4 linked regions of the Homo sapiens genome follow. Changing the gene in region 1 together with any one later gene gives a genetic interaction. Each region holds a gene or a part of one and is shown in the gene's direction. Other genes may lie near its edges.

Region 1 (3,500 bases):
ATAGGCAAATGAGGAATCTCTAGTTCTAAAAATAGATACTAGGCAATAGCACTTGTTGAATGTTAGGTGTCCTAACTGCTGGCTATCCAGAGAAAATACATGGAGGTGGGGCACAAAACAGACAAGAAATGTCATGTGATTAATTTTAAGAGAGCTAAGCATAGAGTGCAGAGGGTCACCTAACCCAAATCAAGCTAAGCTTGTATGGGAAGATATTCTGAAAGAAGAGACATTTGATCTTAGTTTTGAAAGACAGATAGTGATAGAGCAGGTGAAGAAGGGCAGGGAAGAGTGCTTAAAGTTGAAGGAATAGCATGTACAAAGACAGAAGCAAGACAGCACAGTGTATTTAGGGAACTGCAAGTATGTGTTGGTGTGGCTTGAGAATAGACTAAGGTTTAATGGGGAGGGACAAGCAAAGGTGCTAAAGAAGTAATGTGAGATCTTGAATGTGAGGTTATGAAGGATCTTATAAACCATACTAGTAAGTTTTCACTATCCTGGAGGCAGCAGGTAATCTCTGAAAGATTTAAGTGGAAAAGTAGTATGATGAGATTTGGGGTCTAGGAAGATTGCTTTTCGTGACCTTGAGGGAGGTATGTAGCAAGTAGGGAGATCTCTTAGGGGGTCTTTGAAGTACTTTGGGCCAGAAATGAAGAAGGCGTAAACCGAAGAGTTGGCAAGAGAGGAAGATTTTTGAGAAAGGTTTAGAAGATATGTCTGGCTGGGTTGGTAATTGGTAGGTAAGGGAGAAAGAGGAGTGAAGAATGATCCTTAGGTTTTGGCCTGGTTGTCTTAGATTGGATTCACTGGTATGAGGATATTAAATTGTTCCTTACTTTCTAAGTACAAAACAAATATAATCACAAATTATGCCAAAATGGTTGTAAAAGTTAGAAAGGAGAAATGTCAATAACTGTTATTAATTCCTAAAGTGAGGTACTGAGAGATTTTCTAATTGCTTGCCTTGATAGTCCCTAGGAGATGATGGTAAATTCCCATTTTTTCTTGGTCAAATTAGGTGTGGTCCAACTTAGATGCTAAGGGAAAAATTTTAGTTCTTTTAAGCACTCATCTGTGTAAAGAGAGATAAATCTGAGTCTAGTTTATTTTTCACTATAGGTAATGAAGATGGTAATGACCTTAACAGCTGTGGAGTCTGGCTGTATCCATTACGTCAAGCGACCTGGAGCAGCTCTTGACCCTGGCTGTGTACTAGCCAAAATGCAACTGGACAACCCCAGCAAGGTTCAGCAGGTGAGTAGGAAGGTGCTCCGAATATTGCTCTCTAAGAGCTAAAGAACTTGGTGGTTTGGAGAGGCAAGTGATTTCAATGCTTGGTTTGCCAGTGTTTTCTTTAGCTTTGTCCCCTATTAATCTTATGCCTTGTATTTGTGCCTGTAGTATTATGGAACTAGAGTTTGCAAGAGTTACTGTAGTACTAAGATTCTGTAATTTCCTTATGATGTTTCCTCTATTGACTTCCCTCCTGGTAGCTGGGTATGATGTCTCGATTTTGAATGATAACTCTTAAGTGCAGTGGTGTGTTTGTACCTTAGATCAAAAGTAGTAGATGACTTGATCTCTTGTTGGGGTTGACAGGCTGAACTTCACACAGGTAGTCTGCCACGGATCCAGAGCACGGCACTCAGAGGCGAGAAACTCCATCGAGTGTTCCATTATGTCCTGGATAATCTGGTCAATGTAATGAATGGATACTGCCTTCCAGATCCTTTCTTTAGCAGCAAGGTATGTATCACGTCTCCTGGGGAAGGGATGTACAAATGGGATACCTATTCTCCAAAATAGTTCCAAGTCTCATAATGATTGTTTAAGAGGGAGGAAAAGAAAGCTGTTTGGCCTAGAACTCTTTCACCTTCAGTTGTGGGACTTGAGGTCTTTAAATCCATGTTTCTTATCCTTGTCATGGACTTCACATTTAATTGTGATTACTCCTTTTTTTTTTTCCTCGAGACGGAGTCTTGCTCTGTTGCCCAGGCTGGAGTGCAATGGCACAAACTCAGCTGACTGCAACCTCCACCTCCTGGGTTCAAGTGATTCTCCTGCCTCAACCTCCTGAGTAGTGGGGATTGTAGGCACGTGCCACCAGGCGCGGCTAATTTTTTTTTTTTTTTTTTAGTAGAGGTGGGGTTTCACCACGTTGGCCAGACTGGTCTTGAACTCCTGACTTTGTGATCTGCCCGCCTCGGCCTCCCAAAGTGCTGGGATTATAGGCGTGAGCCACTGTGCCCGCCCGTGATTAGTCCTTTTTAAACTGGAGAATAGGGGCAATGTTAGATGCTTACGTTGCAATTTCAAAGTACTCTATGATAGTTGGCTCACGCCTGTAATCTCACCACTTTGGGAAGCTGAGATGGAAAGATCGCTTGAGGCCAGGAGTTTGAGACCAGCCTGATCAACATAGCAAGACCCCATATCTATTGAAAATTATATAAATTTTTATTGAAAAGAAGTAGTATATGATAGTGAATTCAGATATAGTTGACTCTTGAACAATACAGGTTTGAACTGTGTGGGTCCACTTATATGTGGATTTTTTCAGCCAAACATGGATCAAAATTACAGTATTGATGAGATATGGAACCCACAACTATTTCTATACATGGGTTCCGTAGGGCTCAAGTATGTGCAGATTTTCATATATGAGTGGTGGTTCTGGAACCAATTTCCCACGTATACAGAATGACAACTATATATCTTTTTATTTGGGGGATTGTGTTAACTTGGGTCCTATTTTACCAATGCTTTCTTTCTAGGTAAAAGACTGGGTAGAGCGATTGATGAAAACCCTCAGAGATCCCTCCCTGCCTCTCCTAGAATTGCAAGATATTATGACCAGTGTGTCTGGCCGCATTCCCCCCAATGTGGAGAAGTCTATCAAGAAGGAAATGGCTCAGTATGCTAGCAACATCACATCAGTCCTCTGTCAGTTTCCCAGCCAGCAGGTATTTATAGGATAACACTATATTTTTTTCTGGCTACCAATGCCAGAGTTTATGTTGTAGGATTCCTTCCTATTTGGATCCTCCTTACTTTTTGGATGTTGTGCTTGTATACTTTTAAGCATTGTATTCCTCACAAAACTGCCTCAGGGTACAAACCCAACAGTGAAAGTACTGTATGTGAAGGATAAGTATCTGTAGTTATGAGAAAAGCACACTTGGATCATGTATACCTTATAGCTTTGTTCCTGGGGCTATTCCCTAATTAGAGGTATTTTCATGAATTGAAAATAGAGTGATATTAGTTGATTGATTGATTCATTCATTCACTCATTGATTTAGAGATGGAGTCTAGCTCTGTCACCAGGCTGGAGTGCAGTGGCTGATCTCGGCTCACTGCAACCCCTGCCTCCCGAGTTCAAGCAATTCTCCTGCCTCAGCCTCCTGAGTAGCTGGGATTACATTCACACGCTGCCATGCCAGCTAATTTTTGCATTTTTAGTAGTCACGGGTTTCACCATGTTGGCCAGGATGGTC
Region 2 (3,500 bases), on another chromosome or scaffold:
GCCTTATGGCTGGAGGTGAGATATGCTGGCGGCAATACTGCTCTTTACTGCACTGAGATGTTTGTGTAAAGTCAGACATAAATCTGGCCTACGTGCACATCAAGGCACAGCACCTTTCCTTAAACTTATTTATGACACAGAGTCCTTTGCTCACATGTTTTTCTGCTGACCCTCTGCCCACCATTACCCTATAGTCCTGCCACATCCCCTTAGCCGAGATAGTAGAGATAGTGATCAATAAATACTGAGGGAACTCAGAGACGAGTGCTGGCGCATGTCCTCCGTATGCTGAGCACCGGTCCCCTGGCCCACTGTTCTTTCTCTATACTTTGTCTCTGTGTCTTCTTTCTTTCCTCAGTCTCTCGTCCCACCTGACGAGAAACATCCACAGGTGTGGAGGGGCTAGCCCCTTTCATGTGATGAAGGGCTCTTATAAATTATGTATTCAAAGAAATCGAGCACAGAGGAGGTTGTGGTTTCATGCCTGGGAGAGTCAGGAAGGCAGATGACAGGTTACTGGACTTCAAAGATTAGGGAACAGGCAGCTGAAAGAGCCAGTGCCCAGAGACATGATGAAGCTCGGCCACATCTGGGAGCAGCAGTGAGATTGGCTCTGCAGTTGGGGCATAGCACCAGGAGGGAGGCAGGGACCAGACTATCACGGGCTTTGGGTGTCTCCAGTTTCTGACAGCCCCTTCAGACTATTAAATCTGCACTCTCAGAATGAACAGGAATTGAGTTTGTCCTTCTCTCCAGGCGTCCACCACCCCCAAGATAGACCTGGACCCTTCTTCCCAAGTAAAGCACCCCCACAGGGACTCCTGCATTTCAAGTCCCACTTCACTAAATTGGGATAATAAGAGGGAGTCCTTTTATTCCTGCTAGGATCAAAGGAGAAATGGACTGGAGTGAAGTGGGGGTGGGAACAGGTGATCTGGCATGAGAACTATGTTGTATGTAACCAAGAACTTCTGTGTCATTCATGTTTCAGATGCAGTATGTCTTCATATACCAAGCCCTTCTGGAGCATTATCTCTATGGAGATACAGAACTGGAAGTGACCTCTCTAGAAACCCACCTGCAGAAAATTTACAACAAAATCCCAGGGACCAGCAACAATGGATTAGAGGAGGAGTTTAAGGTGAGTTGGAGCTGGATAACCTCCTTCAGATTGAAGGATCCTTGTAATCTGGGGAACATGGGATGCCTGACTGTGCATTTGCCAACAGTAAATCCCCTTGTGAGGCATGCCAGTGGTTAAGGAGATGGTCCTTTCCTCGTACTCTGGTAACTCTCAACTCATCCTGCACGTTGGAATCACTTTGGTTGTGTTAGAGTAGGGAGAAGCAGGCAACAGTATTTTAAGGCCCCTAGCCCTCCGAGGTGATTATGATACACAGCAAGAGCAGTTTTTTCTGTAAGAGCCAGATAATAAATATTTTAGGCTTTGCAGCCCACATGGTTTCTATCCAGCTACTTAGTGCTGTCTTTGTAACACAAAGGCAGCCATAACCAATAGGTAAATATAATGAGTGTGGCTGTTTTATAAAACTTTATTTGCAGGCAGCAGGCAGCAGGCCAGATTTGGCCTCTGGACCTTAGATCACTGATAGCTCCTATATGCCACTAGACAATGGTTCTCAACACACCTAAGGCATATGTCACACTGTCATCAGTAAAAGTGCTCTCCCAGGCTGGGCACAGTGGCTCACGCCTGTAATCACAGCACTTTGGGAGGCTGAGACAGGTGGATCATGAGGTCAGGAGTTCCAGACCAGCCTGGCCAATATGGTGAAACCCCGTCTCTACTAAAAATACAAAAAGTAGCCAGGCATGATGGCACATGCCTGTAGTCCCAGCTACTCAGGAGGCTGAGGCGAGAGAATTGCTTGAACCCGGAAGGCAGAGGTTGCAGTGAGCCGAAATCATGCCACTGCACTCCAGCCTGGGCGACAGAGCGAGACTCCATCTCAAAAAAAAAAAAAAAAAAAGTGCTTTCTCAGAAGCAGGAGATTCTGGGTTGGGGTGGGGAGGACCACTTAGAGAAGTTCTTCTCAAATATAGCATGTGCACAGATTTCTTTGGGATCCTGTCAAGATGTGGGTTCTGCCAGGCACGGTGGCTAATGCCTGTAATCCCAGCACTTTGGGAGGCCAAGTCAGGCAGATCACCTGAGCTCAGGAGTTCAAGACCAGCCTGACCAACACGGAGAAACTCTGTCTCTATTAAAAATACAAAATTAGCCAGGCATGGTGGCACATGCCTGTAATCCCAGCTACTTGGGAGGCTGAGGCAGGAGAATCACTTGAACCCAGGAGGCAGAGATTGCAGTGAGCTGAGATTGTGCCACTGCACTCCAGCCTGGGTGACAGAGCAAGACTCTGTCTCAAAAAAAAAAAAAAAAAAGATATTAGGTTCTGATTCAGCAGGTATGAGTTAGAGCTTGAGATTCTGCATTTCTTTTTTTCTTTTCTTTTTTTTTGAGATGGAGTTTCACTCTTGTCACCCGGGCTGGGGTGCAATGGCGCGATCTCAGCTCACTGCAACCTCTGCCTCCCGGGTTCAAGGGATTCTTCTGTCTCAGCCTCCTAAGTAGCTGGGTCTACAGGCACGTGCCACTACCCCCGGCTAATTTTTAGTAGAGACAGGGTTTCACCATGTTGGCCATGCGGGTCTCAAACTCCTAACCTCAGTTGATTGCCCACCTTGGCCTCCCAAAGTGCTGGGATTACAGGCATGAGCCACCACGCCCGGCTTGAGATTCTGCATTTCTAATAAGGTGAAGCCAACGCTGCTGGTGTATGGGCTACACTTTGAGTAGCAAATGTCAAGAAGGAGCCTCAATCGGGAAGGGAGGATGCAATTCTGAATAAGTTTTTTTGAAGAGCCTTAGGCAGCCTCTGGGGGTGGAACTGCAGAGTGGACACACTCCCTCCTACGATGCTGGAATCCCTTGCTCCAGGATCACAAAATTCCAAGCCAGGAGAATCTCAAGAGAGTCCACAGGAGCCTGGAAGGTAGCATTTCCCAAACAGTCTCTTGGCTTCAGGGTTCCAGCTGAACATATGGGAACAGAGGTCAGGGCCCTGGTGAGAAGAGCAGTATGGAGCCAGAGTGGCCTGGAGGTGCAGGCCAAGGGACAGGCATAATCTTGTCAAGTTCAGTTACTGGGATCAGTAATGTTTCCCCTCCCCTTCCCAATTCAGAAGTTAACATCAATCAAAATCCAGAATGACAAGATGCGGACTGGAAACCTTCCAGCCAACATGAAGAAGAACCGTGTTTTACAGATCATTCCATGTAAGAGCCCTCCCGCCACTCCAAAGCCTTATTGCCCCATCCCTCAATTCCCTCCACCCCTTCCATTTCTCAGGTACTAGTTAATGATTGGCGTATAGACAAGAATCATGGCATTGCCTCTTGTTGCACCCACTTAACAACATGGCGTTGCCTTTTGTTGCACCTTAGTGGCTTCTGGAAATAACGTAAAAGCCAAAGGC
Region 3 (3,500 bases), on another chromosome or scaffold:
TACAGGCGCGTGCCACCACGCCCAGCTAATTTTTGTATTTTTAGTAGAGACGGGATTTCTACATGTTGGTCAGGCTGGTCTTGAACTTCTGACCTCGTGATCTGCCCGCCTCGGCGTCCCAAAGTGCTGGGATTACAGGCATGAGCCACCGCGCCCGGCTGTTTTTGTTTTTTGAGACAGGGTCTTGCTCTGTGCCCTGGGCTGGAGTGCAGGGGCATGAACACGGCTCACTGCAACTTGAACCTCCAGGGCTCAAACCATCTTCCTGCCTCAGCCTCCTGAGCAGCTGGGACCACAGGAGTGCTCTATCACTCCTGGCTAATTTATTTTATTTTATTTATTATTTTGTTTTTGAGACCGAGTCTCACTCTGGTTGCCCAGGCTGGAGTGCAGTGGTACGATCTCAGCTCATTGCAGCCTCTACCTCCTGGGCTCAAGTGATTCTCCCACTTCAGCCTCTGGAGCTATAGACTCTCTACACCACGCCTGGCTAATTGTTTTTGTATTTTTAGTAGAGAAGGGGTTTTGCTACATTGTCCAGGCTGGTCTCAGTCTCAAACTCCTGGACCCAAGAGATCCTCCCACCGCAGCCTCCCAGAGTGCTAGGATTACAGGTGTGAGCCACCACACACCTCGGCTCATTTTTAATTTTTTTGTAGAGATGGAGTCTCGCTGTGTTACCCGGCCTCAAGCGATCTTCCCACCTTGGCCTCTCCAACGTGCAGGGATTATAGGTGCAAACCACCACACCCGGCCATAGTGTTGTTAAGGCAGGTTGATGCCTAAACTTGAAATAATGTAGTCAGCCCATTTTGGTTAGGATGGTGATGTACTTCAAGGCGGTTCTGAAAGTGCATAATTGAATTGGTTTTTAAGCCACTGTTTTCCGCAAATGGGGCTTTCAAAGGCAGGTATTTGTCTAGTTGATGTCTGGGCTCAGCCCCTGATTTCCCTTGGTCAAGCCCCTTATCTGCCCAGACCTGGGATCCTGAGTTGCAAGTAGGGCCACTGCTGCTTAACTCTGGTGTGGGGGTCCTGGAAGTGTGAAGACGAGCACCCAGCCTGTCTGACCCCACTCCAGTGTTGAATACAGGGCACTGATTGGCAGCACTCTATGTCACCCAGGCTGGAGTGCAGTGGCGTGATCTCGGCTCACCGCAACCTCTACCTCCCGGGTTCAAGCGATTCTCCTGCCTCAGCCTCCCAAGTAGCTGGGATTACAGGCATGTGCCACCACGCCCGGTTAATTTTGTATTTTTAGTAGAGATGGGGTTTCTCCATGTTGGTCAGGCTGGTCTCGAACTCCTGACCTCAGGTGATCCACCCGCCTCGGCCTCCCAAAGTGCTGGGATTACAGGCATGGGCCACCGTGCCTGGCCAGGTGATGCTTTTAATGCATAAAGATAAAGCATCTTTTTCTCTCTTTTTTTTTTTTTTCTGAGACAGGGTCTTGCTTTGTCACCCAGGCTGGAGTGCAGTGGTGCCATTACAGCCCACTGCAGCCTCGACCTCCCGGACTTAAGCAGTCCTCCCACCTTAGCCTCCCAAAGTGCTGGGATTACAGGTGTGCAGCCCTGCACCCGGCGAGAAAGCATCTTTTCATAACTGTTTCTTTTTTTGGAGATGGAGTCTCGCTCTCGCTTTATCTACCAGACTGGAGTGAAGTGGTGCGATCTGGGCTCCTGTATCCTCTGCCTCCTGGGTTCAAGCAATTATTGTACCTCAGCCTCCTGAGTAGCTGGGATTACAGGCGTGTGCCACCATGCCTGGCTAATTTTTGTGTTTTTAGTAGAGATGGGTTTCACCATGTTGGCCAGGCTGGTCTTGAACTCCTGACCTCAGGTGATCCGCTAGCCTTGGCCTCCAAAAGTGCTGGGATTACAGACATGAGCCACCGCGCCCGGCCTCATAAGTTTTTGTTGCGGAGTCTGGGTGTCTTGGTGTGGACTCAGCCTCACTGCTAGGCACAGGGTGGTATCCAGTTCTTACAGGGATGGACAGTGCTGTAGTAAGCGCCTGCCTCTAGGTGGTCACTTCAAGCTGTGCTCAAGTAGCAGTTCCATAACATCATTACAAAAATATTAGCCTGCTGTCTGAATGGCTTACAGTTTATAATTGAGGGTGGTAAGTGGGGCTAAGATGCCTGTTTGGTGTTTTGTTTTGGATACCTGGGTATATGCACACATAGTAAGGAAATTTCCTTATTTTATTTAAGATTTTGTTTGTAGCGTGTGAATGACTTGCTTCGACCGGCCCTTTAGGAAGTGTCTGACAGGCTGCCTCCCCTGAGATCTCTCCTCCATAATTATCCTTCATTCCACGGGAGTGGGACTTTCTCATCGCTGAACAAAGGGAATAGCCAGTTTGTCCTATTGAAGTACCCGTTCTGGTTCTCATTAAGGGTTGCCTCGGAATTTGTAAATAAAGGAACGTTCAGAATAAGGACAGGGCCTTCCTTTTCTTTAGTTCATTGGTTTTTAAAATTTCTATTTTGGCTGGGCGCGGTGGCTCACGCCTGTAATCCCAGCACTTTGGGAGGCCGAGGCGGGCAGATCACGAGGTCGGGAGATCGAGACCATCCTACATGGTGAAACCCCGTCTCTACTAAAAATACAGAAAAATTAGCTGGGCATGGTGGCGGGCACCTGTAGTCCCAGCTACTTGGGAGGCTGAGGCAGGAGAATGGCGTGAACGTGGGAGGCGGAGGTTGCAGTGAGCCGAGATCGCGCCACTGCACTCCAGCCTTGGCGACAGAGCAAGACTCAAAAAAAAAAAAAAAGAAATTTCTATTTTGGGTGTTGATACTACCAACCTGTTATTTTACACATGAATGTGTATCAGAGAGCAGAGACCCTTAGCCCGTATCAGGCGTTGCTCTTGGTTGTGGCTGGAGGTGCTGGGGCTGAGCTGTGGGGCAGAGCAGGACTGGGACCCCAGGAGGGCCCCCCGCTGCTGGCGTCTCCTTTCCACGGCAGGCTGGCACCTCGCTCCACCCCTGCCTGCTCAGTTGCTGCCTCTGTCAGCCCCCCCTGGGGGCAGCCCCACCGGTACCAGCTCCTGCGGACGCCTCTGCCGTCACCCCTCCCTCCGTGGAGGGTGACCTCCTACAGCCCCTGCTGTCATCTCTTCTCTCTTCCTCATCCTATGGCTCCCCAGGTCACTTCTCGGCGTCCTCTATCCTCTGTGGGCACCCCCTCCGGTGCCTGCCCCCGTGGGTGCCCCCACTGTGCACCCTTTCCTAGGTGGGTGGCTGCCCCTTGTTGCACCCCACGCCGTGCCGGTCCTGTGGGCATCAGCGTGATCTCGGCCCCGCCCCGCCCCGCTCGGGAAAGGCCTTTTGTTCCGCGCGACACGCCCCTCCGCTGCGCGCCCGCGATTGGCTGTCCCGGGTCACGTGTGAAGCCCCGCCCCCGTGGGAACCGTCCTGGTCGTTGGGGGGGGGGGCAGCTCCCATGTGGGCGTGGCCTTGAGGCCCCGGGGGTGTAGCTGAGGGGCAGGCG
Region 4 (2,462 bases), on another chromosome or scaffold:
GAAACAGAATCCTCTGGAACTTGAGGAAGTGAACATTTCGGTGACTTCCGCATCAGGAAGGCTAGAGTTACCCAGAGCATCAGGCCGCCACAAGTGCCTGCTTTTAGGAGACCGAAGTCCGCAGAACCTGCCTGTGTCCCAGCTTGGAGGCCTGGTCCTGGAACTGAGCCGGGGCCCTCACTGGCCTCCTCCAGGGATGATCAACAGGGCAGTGTGGTCTCCGAATGTCTGGAAGCTGATGGAGCTCAGAATTCCACTGTCAAGAAAGAGCAGTAGAGGGGTGTGGCTGGGCCTGTCACCCTGGGGCCCTCCAGGTAGGCCCGTTTTCACGTGGAGCATGGGAGCCACGACCCTTCTTAAGACATGTATCACTGTAGAGGGAAGGAACAGAGGCCCTGGGCCCTTCCTATCAGAAGGACATGGTGAAGGCTGGGAACGTGAGGAGAGGCAATGGCCACGGCCCATTTTGGCTGTAGCACATGGCACGTTGGCTGTGTGGCCTTGGCCCACCTGTGAGTTTAAAGCAAGGCTTTAAATGACTTTGGAGAGGGTCACAAATCCTAAAAGAAGCATTGAAGTGAGGTGTCATGGATTAATTGACCCCTGTCTATGGAATTACATGTAAAACATTATCTTGTCACTGTAGTTTGGTTTTATTTGAAAACCTGACAAAAAAAAAGTTCCAGGTGTGGAATATGGGGGTTATCTGTACATCCTGGGGCATTAAAAAAAAAATCAATGGTGGGGAACTATAAAGAAGTAACAAAAGAAGTGACATCTTCAGCAAATAAACTAGGAAATTTTTTTTTCTTCCAGTTTAGAATCAGCCTTGAAACATTGATGGAATAACTCTGTGGCATTATTGCATTATATACCATTTATCTGTATTAACTTTGGAATGTACTCTGTTCAATGTTTAATGCTGTGGTTGATATTTCGAAAGCTGCTTTAAAAAAATACATGCATCTCAGCGTTTTTTTGTTTTTAATTGTATTTAGTTATGGCCTATACACTATTTGTGAGCAAAGGTGATCGTTTTCTGTTTGAGATTTTTATCTCTTGATTCTTCAAAAGCATTCTGAGAAGGTGAGATAAGCCCTGAGTCTCAGCTACCTAAGAAAAACCTGGATGTCACTGGCCACTGAGGAGCTTTGTTTCAACCAAGTCATGTGCATTTCCACGTCAACAGAATTGTTTATTGTGACAGTTATATCTGTTGTCCCTTTGACCTTGTTTCTTGAAGGTTTCCTCGTCCCTGGGCAATTCCGCATTTAATTCATGGTATTCAGGATTACATGCATGTTTGGTTAAACCCATGAGATTCATTCAGTTAAAAATCCAGATGGCAAATGACCAGCAGATTCAAATCTATGGTGGTTTGACCTTTAGAGAGTTGCTTTACGTGGCCTGTTTCAACACAGACCCACCCAGAGCCCTCCTGCCCTCCTTCCGCGGGGGCTTTCTCATGGCTGTCCTTCAGGGTCTTCCTGAAATGCAGTGGTGCTTACGCTCCACCAAGAAAGCAGGAAACCTGTGGTATGAAGCCAGACCTCCCCGGCGGGCCTCAGGGAACAGAATGATCAGACCTTTGAATGATTCTAATTTTTAAGCAAAATATTATTTTATGAAAGGTTTACATTGTCAAAGTGATGAATATGGAATATCCAATCCTGTGCTGCTATCCTGCCAAAATCATTTTAATGGAGTCAGTTTGCAGTATGCTCCACGTGGTAAGATCCTCCAAGCTGCTTTAGAAGTAACAATGAAGAACGTGGACGTTTTTAATATAAAGCCTGTTTTGTCTTTTGTTGTTGTTCAAACGGGATTCACAGAGTATTTGAAAAATGTATATATATTAAGAGGTCACGGGGGCTAATTGCTGGCTGGCTGCCTTTTGCTGTGGGGTTTTGTTACCTGGTTTTAATAACAGTAAATGTGCCCAGCCTCTTGGCCCCAGAACTGTACAGTATTGTGGCTGCACTTGCTCTAAGAGTAGTTGATGTTGCATTTTCCTTATTGTTAAAAACATGTTAGAAGCAATGAATGTATATAAAAGCCTCAACTAGTCATTTTTTTCTCCTCTTCTTTTTTTTCATTATATCTAATTATTTTGCAGTTGGGCAACAGAGAACCATCCCTATTTTGTATTGAAGAGGGATTCACATCTGCATCTTAACTGCTCTTTATGAATGAAAAAACAGTCCTCTGTATGTACTCCTCTTTACACTGGCCAGGGTCAGAGTTAAATAGAGTATATGCACTTTCCAAATTGGGGACAAGGGCTCTAAAAAAAGCCCCAAAAGGAGAAGAACATCTGAGAACCTCCTCGGCCCTCCCAGTCCCTCGCTGCACAAATACTCCGCAAGAGAGGCCAGAATGACAGCTGACAGGGTCTATGGCCATCGGGTCGTCTCCGAAGATTTGGCAGGGGCAGAAAACTCTGGCAGGCTTAAGATTTGGAA

Evidence for each region.
Region 2: changes in ACACA (region 1) and PTPRA together harm fitness less than expected from each alone (positive genetic interaction), as found in Homo sapiens cells (one large-scale study listed by BioGRID).
Region 3: changes in ACACA (region 1) and UNKL together harm fitness more than expected from each alone (negative genetic interaction), as found in Homo sapiens cells (one large-scale study listed by BioGRID).
Region 4: changes in ACACA (region 1) and BCL2 together harm fitness less than expected from each alone (positive genetic interaction), as found in Homo sapiens cells (one large-scale study listed by BioGRID).

What each region holds. Positions count from the first base shown.
Region 1 is NC_000017.11:37,242,837-37,246,336, reverse strand, and holds part of ACACA (acetyl-CoA carboxylase 1), read left to right. Parts: intron 1-1,122; coding exon 1,123-1,257; intron 1,258-1,361; exon of another isoform or gene 1,362-1,536; intron 1,537-1,602; coding exon 1,603-1,749; intron 1,750-2,777; coding exon 2,778-2,966; intron 2,967-3,500. UniProt on the Homo sapiens protein: Cytosolic enzyme that catalyzes the carboxylation of acetyl-CoA to malonyl-CoA, the first and rate-limiting step of de novo fatty acid biosynthesis.
Region 2 is NC_000020.11:3,023,481-3,026,980, forward strand, and holds part of PTPRA (receptor-type tyrosine-protein phosphatase alpha isoform 1 precursor), read left to right. Parts: intron 1-991; coding exon 992-1,141; intron 1,142-3,206; coding exon 3,207-3,300; intron 3,301-3,500. UniProt on the Homo sapiens protein: Tyrosine protein phosphatase which is involved in integrin-mediated focal adhesion formation.
Region 3 is NC_000016.10:1,408,205-1,411,704, reverse strand, and holds part of UNKL (putative E3 ubiquitin-protein ligase UNKL), read left to right. Parts: intron 1-2,812; exon of another isoform or gene 2,813-3,311; intron 3,312-3,500. UniProt on the Homo sapiens protein: May participate in a protein complex showing an E3 ligase activity regulated by RAC1. Ubiquitination is directed towards itself and possibly other substrates, such as SMARCD2/BAF60b. Intrinsic E3 ligase activity has not been proven.
Region 4 is NC_000018.10:63,125,308-63,127,769, reverse strand, and holds part of BCL2 (apoptosis regulator Bcl-2), read left to right. Parts: 3' UTR 1-2,462. UniProt on the Homo sapiens protein: Suppresses apoptosis in a variety of cell systems including factor-dependent lymphohematopoietic and neural cells. Regulates cell death by controlling the mitochondrial membrane permeability. Appears to function in a feedback loop system with caspases.